Regions from separate parts of the Homo sapiens genome. Here region 1 is reported to be linked to region 2. Evidence: microRNA targets listed by miRTarBase, many of them from high-throughput screens and not tested one by one. Region 2 holds a microRNA gene; the other region holds the end of a gene's coding sequence. Distances are from middle to middle.
Evidence for each region. Region 2 holds the annotated microRNA hsa-miR-548f-3p (AAAAACUGUAAUUACUUUU, at 3,456-3,474, shown strand). A microRNA usually pairs through its seed, bases 2 to 8, with sites in the 3' UTR of a target mRNA and lowers its output. Matches are read on the target gene's strand: a 7mer-m8 pairs with bases 2 to 8, a 7mer-A1 pairs with bases 2 to 7 and ends in A, and an 8mer does both.

Region 1 (5,402 bases), 130 Mb from region 2:
GAGTTTAGAGATTGGTTACCACATCCCTCTTTTAAAAGATAGCACAATTCACAACACAGAGACCTGAAAGATATTAGCTCTGTTTCTATTTTCCCTTCACATTATAATCTTCTCATAAATAATTAGAATAAATGGATTCTTACAGGCAATATGATTTCAAAGGCAAAACCACTTTTTAGCAACTTGTAAAATAACTCATTTCTTGAATTTTCCCGATTCTTACTTTACAAACAGCAAGCAGGGTTTTCCCCCCTATACCGGTACTCACAAACAGTTCATAACAAAGTTGGAGAACACTCAGAAACAAGATGAAGAAAAGGATTGCATCATTGATGAAATATTCACACTTCAGTGAAGAGCCAAAGGTTGTCAGAAATTGGATTAAGGGGAAATAATCTTTTCTTTCTGTTAGCATTTGAAATTGTGTCAGTGTTTTTCCTTGCATCTTAAGCAAATATTTTTTGGTCTATAATGAAAAGTGTTTGTGAAAGTATTTCCTCTTTATTCGGGGAACCGTGTCCATGACAGTGGCTAGAGTCTGAGTTTCTAAAATGCCAAATCCAGACCGCAGCAGATCTTGAAAAGTGGCTTTTTATCAAACTTAACACATGGCATATGTTTTTTCTAAAATATTACTGGTTTATCCTTTCTTTTCAGGATGATCAGAAGCTACAGGAGAGTTTAAGGCAAGGTGCTATCATTATTGCTTCATTAATCAAGGAAAGAAATTCTGGACTCATTGGTCAGCTTCTGATAGCATGAAGAACACAAAAAATTACCTATTTTCTAAAACATCTATTTGCGTATCTTAATTGTGCTTTGTGCCCCCGCTGCTGTGTGTGGTAGAATGTTTCAGTTGTCTTTTATATCTTCTCTATAATTTGTAGGATGTGATGCTTAGATTATAAAGCAGATTAATGTTTATATCTGTGAAATAAAGAATACTTTTGTGTATGACAAATATTAATTGCCTGAACCAGAAAAAAATAGTAGATAAGTGGAAAATAATAGCCTTCAAATGAATCTTTCCACAGAGACATGAACGGTCAAATAGAAATAATGATGGGGTGAGCTATTCTTTCAAGGAATGAGAATTTAGAAAACTTCAGTTATTATCCTAACTGTTAATTAATAATTTACACTATTATGAAGCTAATGGATAAACTTCAGAATTATTCTCACTTCTATAATTGTCCTGTCACCAGGTGATATTTTGTCTTTTTGTCTTGTGTTAAAAATGTCTACACTTTAATAAAAAAGGGTGAGTGGGATACCAGGGAACGGAACTGTTTGTTTCTAGCATTTTCCCCATTTGCCACATATTACTCAAGATCCCTAAAACAGATGTCATTTCCTTCTTTTCTGTTTTTAAATTGTATGTTATTTTTGGTTTATGAACTATAATTATGACTTACATTATTTTAAAGGGTCTCTAGTTTTTCTGAATGAACTTAAAAGTGTCTGGAAAGTTTCGTAGGTGATTCTGGTCAATCCCTGGTTAGTTATCTTCTATAAGGTAGAGAATCTATTGTACATCATAGAGTTAAATTAGTTATTTCAATTCAGATACTGCTACCTTTTAAAATCAAGTTCTTATTTCCAGTTTTCATTGGTATATACATCTGAAATATTAATATTTTCCCTTGCATGTTATAATTATGGGTGTCCTTTAATTCATTAGAGGTGACTTTTAATCTATACATACACTTACTCTATTTATTTTATTTTTTATTGTTTTGAAATGCAGTCGCCCTCTGTCAGGCTGGAGTGCAGTGGCACAATCTCAGCTGACTGCAACCTCTGCCTCCTGGGTTTAAGCAATTATCCTCCCTCAGCCTCCCGAGTAGCTGGGATTACAGGCACCTGCCACCACACCTGGCTAATTTTTTTTTTTTTTTTTTTTTTTTGTATTTTTAGTAGAGAAGGGTTTTCGCCATGTAGGCCAGGCTGGTCTTGAACTCCTGACCTCAAGTGATCTGCCTGCCTCGGCCTCCCAAAATGCTGGGATTATAGGTGTGAGCCACCATACCCAGCCAACATACATTTATTTTATTGAAACAGATTAGGGCTTAGGCTGCACGTGGAAACTATAAAAGTTGCATGAAGTGTTTTCAGTTAAAGATACACTATACAATATCTACCTTGTGGAATTTTTATTTAACATGTTGGGTGATTTTCCCTCTAGTGTTCAAGTATATATATAGTAGGAGAGTTTATATTTTACATTCTCCTAATTGAAATGTGTTATTTGAATGTAGGCTTGTATCTAAATTCCTGGGCCTGCCCTTTTTCTCTCTCTAGGAATATTAAGAAATTTAAAATCCATTAATTTAAGTTTTTGAGGATGGAAATAGGTAAGCAATGTGTGGATTGTGGTTAGGAATGTCTGTGCCTTTGTTCAGATGTCGGCTGTGTGTGTGACGAAAACCACAGCTGCCAAGTCCCCAACATGCACCTGTTGAAGTCATCAGGTGAAAATGTTTAAGACTTTGAAAGTGCTCATAAAGGAAGAAGGGGAAATGTTATCAAGGCTTTAAAGAGAGGGTAAGTGCCTTGAAGAAGAATGCAGTAAACTGGGCATATTTGTGGCACAGCAAAATCACCCTGATCGCTGGAGTGCTGGCTGAGTTAACATAGACTTCAGCTTAAGGAATCCTACAGCAGACAAGAATTTATCTCAGAGTACTTACTATGACATTACCCTAGGCAACTGGTAACATTTAGTATAATTTAGTTAATAAAATATTAAGTTGTGCCTGGAAAAAATAGCATTTGGTCCTTCATAGCAGGCAAAGCAATTCACAGCATTGGGAAAAAAAAATACATACATACATATACATGTATGTATACCCATATATATGTATATACATGCATGTATACCCATATATATGTATATACTTACATGTATATACATATATATGTATGTACGTACATATATACCCATATCTATGTATGTACGTACATATATACCCGTATATATGTACGTACATATATACACATATATGTATGCACGTACATATATACACATATATGTATGTACGTACATATATACACATTATGTACATACATATATACGTATATATGTACATGCATGTATGTATGTATATACGTACGCATACACACATATATTTATATACGTACGCATACACACATATATGTATATACGTACGCATACACACATATATGTATATACGTACGCATACACACATATATGTATATACGTACGCATACACACATATATGTATATACGTACGTATATACACACATATATGTATATACGTACGTATATATGTATTTTTATGTTTTATGTATATGTATTTTATATGTATATATATCTGCACATCCTTCACTATTTTCATGAGGAAATTGGAGCTCAGGGATCTTAGTTACCTTGCCAAAATCATGTGACTGAATAGTAACAAAAGTTTGGGCTTAAAATAAGGAAGACTGATAATAAGTGTTAAGCTTATATTCCTGTCTAACAATGACCCCTGGCAAAGACATCTGATATATAAGCCACGTCTGATATATAAGACGTGATATATAAGCCAGAGGCACTGAATGAACATTGGCGAAATGGACAAGAAGGGTGGGACACTTATGTCCAGGGACTAGGTGAAAGTCCTGGAGCTTTTGGCTTTCCAGCCACCTTCCCAGCATAAAGAAATTGTAGCTAAAGTTAAGGGAATGAATAGAAGTATTGGCCAAAAGAGAAATTATTTTGTTGTTTAAGAGATCTGGCCGGGCGCGATGGCTCACGCCTGAAATCCCAGCACTTTGGGAGGCCGAGGCAGGCAGATTACGAGGTCAGGAGATCCAGACCATCCTGGCTAATGCGGTGAAACCCCGTCTCTAGTAAAAATACAAAAAAAATAGCCAGGCATCGTGGCGGGCGCCTGTAGTCCCAGCTACTCAGGAGGCTTAGGCAGGAGAATGGCGTCAACCTGGGAGGCGGAGCTTGCAGTGAGCCGACATAGCGCCACTGCACTCCAGCCTGGGCAACAGAGCAAGACTCCGTCTCAAAAAAAAAAAAAAAAAAAAAAAGAGAGATCCAGAGGTAACTTTACAGTTACATTTTCATCACTGCTTCTGTAAATTTACTTTAGTAAAAGCTGTCTATTCTCACTTTATTTTCCAAAATCTCTTAAAAAATAATAGTGATTATGCTTCAAGGTTTCTGAAAATGCTTCCACTTGTGGGAAATTTTGTTGCAAAATGGTTTTCTTTCTAAACTTACGCTAGTTAGTTAAATGCAAATTAAAGTTAGTCGTCTTAGGAGTTCATCATAGCGTGAGTAATGGTTTGATTAATGACATTTTGGTAGAGGTCCTATTTTTTTTCATAAAAGTGCTCAATTTGAGATGACTTGTTGCAAGTATACTCATTTACAGGTAAGAGTCAGCTCCCTATATTCTCTCAGAGTCATTGTTATGGTTATTATTGTAAGTATTTTACATTAATTTAACAGAAATTTTTTCTTCCCTAACTTATAACTCAACTTTATGTAAATACAGTGATCATCTTATAAAAATCAAATTACAGAATGTCTTAAAATCTGTAAATTTGACTTTGTTTTAATGTTGAAACTACAAATTCACAGAGGCATAAATCTAACATCTTAATTAAAATGTCAACCATATGCAAGAAGAAAGATAGAAGTTATTTAGAAAGTTTAATTTGAAAACAGAATAATGAAGCATTTTAATTGATATAGGATTTGTTAGTATGGCTTAAAATCAGTGGACTAGAAGTAGCTGTGTAGGTGGTGGTTGGCATTATAGTTGCATTTATATATGTTCTTATTAATTTCAGTTTCAAAATTGTAAGAAGCATATGCATATTTTTAAGGTGACATTGAAAAGTACTATAAAGATTCTAAATATGTTGTTTTTACAAAACAAAATGTAAATAAATTATTGATTTAAAATCTAATGGCATTTTCTTTTTTTTTAGTTTATACATGTTTTTTCAAACTCAGTCACAATTGAATCACTAAATGTAACATTCTCAGAATATAACGTTGTGATGGTTTATATTATATAAAGATATAATTTGAAGTCCAGATCTATATTCTCTAAATATATATATATATACACATATATACCTATGTATGTAAATATATATATTTTATAGTACTCACATATATATATAAAATTACATGTATAAACATATATATATAACCATATATATATATATTTGATTATGAAACCAGAAGTCTTAAATAGATTTCCTCTTCTTCTCCTAGTTGTTAGCAATTATAGTGGCTGCTAAGGATATAAAACCTATACTTGGGCACAGTGGAGAGAAGTATTGTGATTACTTAATCTCTGTAATGAGTTGAATTATTGCTCAGAAATAATCTTTTCTTCCCATTGCCTTCTGGAGAAATATTTGTTCAGGAC
Region 2 (5,402 bases):
ATAAAATAAATAATTTTTACATCAGATAACTTTAATTCCTTATATCCACAAACTGCTAGTATATCTAAAACATCGGCAGATACAGTCATAACATAAAATAATATTGTCTTACTGATTTTTTCTTATAAGTGTAAACATTTGCTTAATTACTATGAAATTATACAATATTCTGAAAAATACAATGCCGGTGGTTGGAAGCTTGGGCTGCAGAATAGCCAGAACTGGTTTAAGATGTATTTGTGTGACCCTGACTAACTCACTCATCCTGTCTTAACGCCAGTGTTTTCATTTGTAAGGCAGGAATTAATAATACCCAATTCCTATGGTTTTTGTAAACTGTTAAATAAAACACTGTATTAAAAGCCCCTAGTACAGTGACTGACACCCAGCAGCTGCTCAATCAGCTCTGCCAGTGTCATTTAGTGTTTGCTTGAATTAGACAGCTTTGAGGGAGTAGCGTGCAAGTTTCTCACGTTTAAAAATATTTTGTATTTGAGAGATTCGTTTTTCACTCTATTTAAAAAACAAAAAAAAACCCAGAAAATAATTTCTTAGTCTCGTCTATATTGTCATTTTGAAAGTCTATATATTTTCCAAATACTTTCATATGGGGGATGGCTCTGCTATTAAAAAAATTAGTATCATTGCAGATGGAAAAGTAAAATATGGATATAAACTAGACTCACAATTATCTGCATTAAGATGATAGGGACAATCCCAACTAGTAGGAAATCAAACACAGTTTTATTTAGCTTTGGAATGCTTCTATATATGACTATATATTTTGGTATTCTGTTAATTTGATATTAACTTCAAATCAATAGCAAAGCCAGATTGTGAGGCTCTATCTCAGGAGTTGCTTTGAAATTGGCGAGCCAAGAAATGCTTTGTGTAGCGTGGGCTCTTGCCTTTGTCACCTTAACATTTTTCTGCCTTTTTTTTGGCTTTGATGCTTAGGAGTGTGCTTGGCCTAAAATAGGAGCCTGTGACTGCCATTCTTCCTCCTGCTTCTTCTTTTCTTTGTTGTTATGGTGTTTGTTATTGTTTGTATTATTATTATTCCTCTTGATATAATCTTTAGAAGCTTTTCAATTTTCTGCACTTGGTATAAATAAGATGGTTTTACATGTTATACAAATGTCTTCATGTTTATTGATGAAGCGTGATGCTAGAATGTAAATGCAGAATGCTACAAGAGCACCTCCAAATTTCATTCATAACAAAACCCTTCAATAAAAATCAGGGTTTTTTTTTCAAGATTATAATGTCTATTCTGAGATATTTTAAAACATGGCTTTTTGTATCTGAAAACATTTCTAAAATATTAACTGCACCCCAAAAGTTTATAACATAAATTTTCTGATATAAGATAATTTATTTAAAATACTTAACATTCTGTAATGTCACATCACATAATAGGAAACAGAAACAATAATCTCTAAGGATTACATTTCCTAGGACGAGGCAACATGGGAGCCTGAAAATTTTCCAGTTTCAAACACCTAGAAATGCTAAATAAAATGTAACATACATCTTTTAAGTTATATATCTGAGCATCCAGTAAAATAGGAGAAGCTTTTGGGTATCAAGAAAAAAAGAGAACACTGAAATTCAGGGTGTTAGCTGATGGTGGGCTATAGTAGTCAGAGGGTATTTACTAATCTTTACAATGCAGAATTTTGGATTTCAAGGCCAAACAGAATTAGAAATCAAGTAATAGACCTGTGCAAAGAATAGGAACTCCCTCACGCCCCTAGCCCCACCACATAAAACCTAAAAATGCTAAATTCACAGTAAAGCAGACACTGGAGAAAAATTAACTAGTCAGCAAAGAGGGATGACAAGGAAATTTGTCTGTATTTTATCTTTTTCCAAAAAAAATGATGATTCTTGAGAATGCATAAGCCATAAACTTGCTGAATTAAATTACAGCTTTTGAATTTACACTGACTATTGGATATAACCCCCAAATCAAGAACTTAAAATAGAAAAAATGGTTCCAAGCTGGTATCTTTTGAAATAAAGTGTAACCCCTCTCTGGATTCACTCTGGAATTATAGGATTACTAATGACAAAGCCCTGAAAAATTTAAACTCACAATCCAAAAATATAAAACTCAAGAAAACAAGTATAATGAACAGAATTCAGCAGAAACACCGCATGGAATATTTGGCCCCCATGAATTCAATTTCAGCTAAATTTGGGGATTGAGAAATAAAACATTCATAAATTATTTGAAGTAAAATGAGAATTAAATATACAAGAAAAGAATAAGATATACTGTAATAGGCTGTTCTCATACTGCTAATACAGACATAGGCAAGACTGGTAATTTATAAAGGAAAGAGGTTTGACTCACTGTTCTGCAGTGCTGGGGAGGCCTCAGGAAACTTATAATCATGGCGGAAGGGGAAGCAAACACACCCTTCTTCACATGGAGGCAGCAAGAAGTACAGAGCAAAGGTGAGGGAAAGTCCCTTATAACCATCAGATGTCGTGAGAACTCACTCACTATTGTGAGAATAGCATGGGGGGAACTGCTGCCATGATTCAATTATCTCTCACTGGGTCCCTCCCACGACATGTAGGGATTATGGGAACTACAATTCAAGATGAGATTTGGGTGGGAACACAGCCAAACCATATCAAATAATACTTAAAAATTACCAGTCATTGTTGATAAGGAAATAAATGGATACTCCAGGAATTAAAAATATATTATTGGAATTAAAAACGCATTAGTTATGAACATTCTAACTGGACTCTTTCAGTTATTTTTAAATGTAAAATAAAATATTGTTGGCTTTAGTTACCTTGTTGTACTATCAAACATTAAATCTTACACATTCTATCCAACTGTATTTTTGTAACCGTTAACTGTCACCATTTCCCACCTTACCCACTATCCTTCCCAGCCTTTGATAACCATCATTCAACTATCTCCAGGAGTTCAGTTATTTTAATTTTTAGCTCCCACAAATGAGTGAGAACGCACATAGTTTGTCTTTCTGTGCCTGGTTTACTTCACTTAACATAATGTCCTTCAGTTCTATCTATGTAGTTGCAAATGACAAGATCTCATTCTTTTATATGGCTGAATAGTACTCTGTTGTGTATACGATGAATTCTTTAGGTGATGGATACCCCATTTACCCTGATATAATTATTAGACATTCTTATGTAGCCCATAAATATATAGACCTATTATATACCAATATAAGTTAAATTTTTTTAAAGAAAAAAACCTCTCATTAGTTGCATTAAGCAGATGAGACAAAGCTACAGAGTGAGTTTGTAAACTGAAAGGTAGATTGAATATCGACAATGTCATTCAGAAATTTAAAAAAACTTAGAAACATTAAATATAAATTCTACAATATACAGTATAAAAATGAGTTCTAACGTATTAGGTTGGTGCAAAAGTAATAGTGGTTTTTGCCATTAAAAGTAATGACAAAAACTGTAATTACTTTTGGAACAATATTAATAGAATTTCAGAGGAGAGAAAAGGGAGAATGATGGAGAATCAATTAAAATACGTAACATCTAAGAATTTTCCAGAACATTTAAAAATTCAGATTCAGAAAGGACAATACATCCCAATTAAACATTTTTATAAAGGTAATCTAGCACTAAACACAGCATGCTATAACAGCACATTACCACGGAACATAAAAGTAGCAAGGGAGAAAAGAGAGAGTATCCCTAAGGAACAATTTTAAAACAGTCAGGAAGCTTCTTAAGAAAAGTGAAAACAAAAGGTAGAATTTAGTAGGATAATATACTCAAAGTACTGAGAGAAACTAAACTTTCAACATAGACTTGTATACCAAGCTAAATAAACAGGGAAGATGGTAAAATTAAGATATTTTCAGAAAAACAAAAAATGAAAAAATTTTAAATTAAAAATGTAAAAATAGAAGCACCTTAGTACCAACACATTCCCATTAAAAGCCATCTAAACTAAAGGATGTGTGTCAAAGAATGGAACTATGTCCAGAAAAGAGAGAAATACAAGATGACATAATAACAGAAGAAATATGCAAATGTGGTAAAATCTAAAACTATATTGACTACATAAACTAAAATTATAAAAGTGATAATGACTAATATTAAAGTTAAAAAAGAGAACTAAAACTCAGGACAAAAAGTAGACTATAGCATGATAGGGTGTGATTAGAAGTAAGTTTCAAATACTGTGATTAGGATTATGTTCAGGAGAAAGATCAAGATCTTAAGCTATGTTGGAATTTAATAAGTATTTTTGAAAAAAAATAAGGATAATCCCTAAAATACTAGATATGACATACATACATTTCAAAGCAATTGTAGGGGAAATCGATATTTTAAAAATATTTGATCAACCAAAAGGGGGGGGAGAAGAAGGAATAAAGGAAAATCAAAAAGAAAAAGCAAAATAAGATGGTAGAAATATATTAAGAAATACTATACTGAAAAGACAGAACTATTGATTTTTTCTTAAATCTAGCAAAATACTATTTCTGAGAAGCATGTCTAACACACAGGAACTAAGAAAATTTGAAAGTAAAAGAATTGAGAAAGGTAACTAAGGCAAATACAACTTTTTTAAGAAAAAGAAAATTAGTATGGTTACAATCATATACCAATCTTAGTGCTATAGTATAAACGTATTGAGATCATTTGTAATATACAGTAGTGTTACTGTGTGGAGAGGTTCAGGCTTCAAGGTGCTGGTGTCTGAATTTGATCCTATTTATTGCCCCAGTTGTGTTATTAAGTTATTGTGCATCATGTTTTTTCTTACCTCTAAAATAGAGGAAATAATGGTTTGTATCTCATAGTATTATTATGAGGATGAACTGAGTAAATACACGTGAAATTATTGAGCATAGAATAACACTCTGAAGCACAGAGAACTCACTGATACTGAGAAAAATGAGGTGTCAAAAAATATTTTAAGACAACACAAGGAAAAAGGCGCTCTGAGAGATAAGGAAGGTTAGTATACAATGAAAAAAGGTAAAATTCACTACAAGTTAGAAAAATTCTAAATATGTCTGTACCTGATAACAGAGTGTTCAAATAGATAACATTTTCAAAACATATGAACCCTACTTCCTCGATGAAACCTTCCCTGATGACTGTTTCTTACTCCAAATGCTAGGTCCCTCCCCTCAGTGCTTCAGTAGCACCCAGGGCATAAGTTGTATGATAGTCTCCTGTCACACAGTTATACTTCCTTGTTCCTCATTTCTCTCCTTCGACTATCTGCCATAAACTCTCTGAACACTGGGACTGCCCTCTGTGCTCTCACTACCGAGTTATCATACAAACGTGATAAATACTAAGCTTCCAAAACATGTATGTTTAATGATGAATCCATAAATGTTTTTGTAAGAGAAAATTTAACAGATGCAACT

Region 1: the mRNA of CRPPA is a reported target of hsa-miR-548f-3p. Seed matches in the 3' UTR shown: 7mer-m8 at 1,601-1,607.

Annotation. Positions count from the first base shown.
Region 1 is chr7:16,087,055-16,092,456 of GRCh38, reverse strand. CRPPA (CDP-L-ribitol pyrophosphorylase A) reads left to right here. Exons shown (of 10, transcript NM_001101426.4): 10 at 658-4,932. The coding sequence ends at 762. Among named protein-coding and RNA genes, the nearest start is that of CRPPA-AS1, 120 kb to the left of the region's middle. RefSeq lists a silencer at 486-686.
Region 2 is chr7:147,376,113-147,381,514 of GRCh38, reverse strand. It overlaps MIR548F4 (microRNA 548f-4), which reads left to right and starts at 3,394; the gene lies at 3,394-3,498. All of the region lies in intron 9 of CNTNAP2 (contactin associated protein 2), which reads right to left.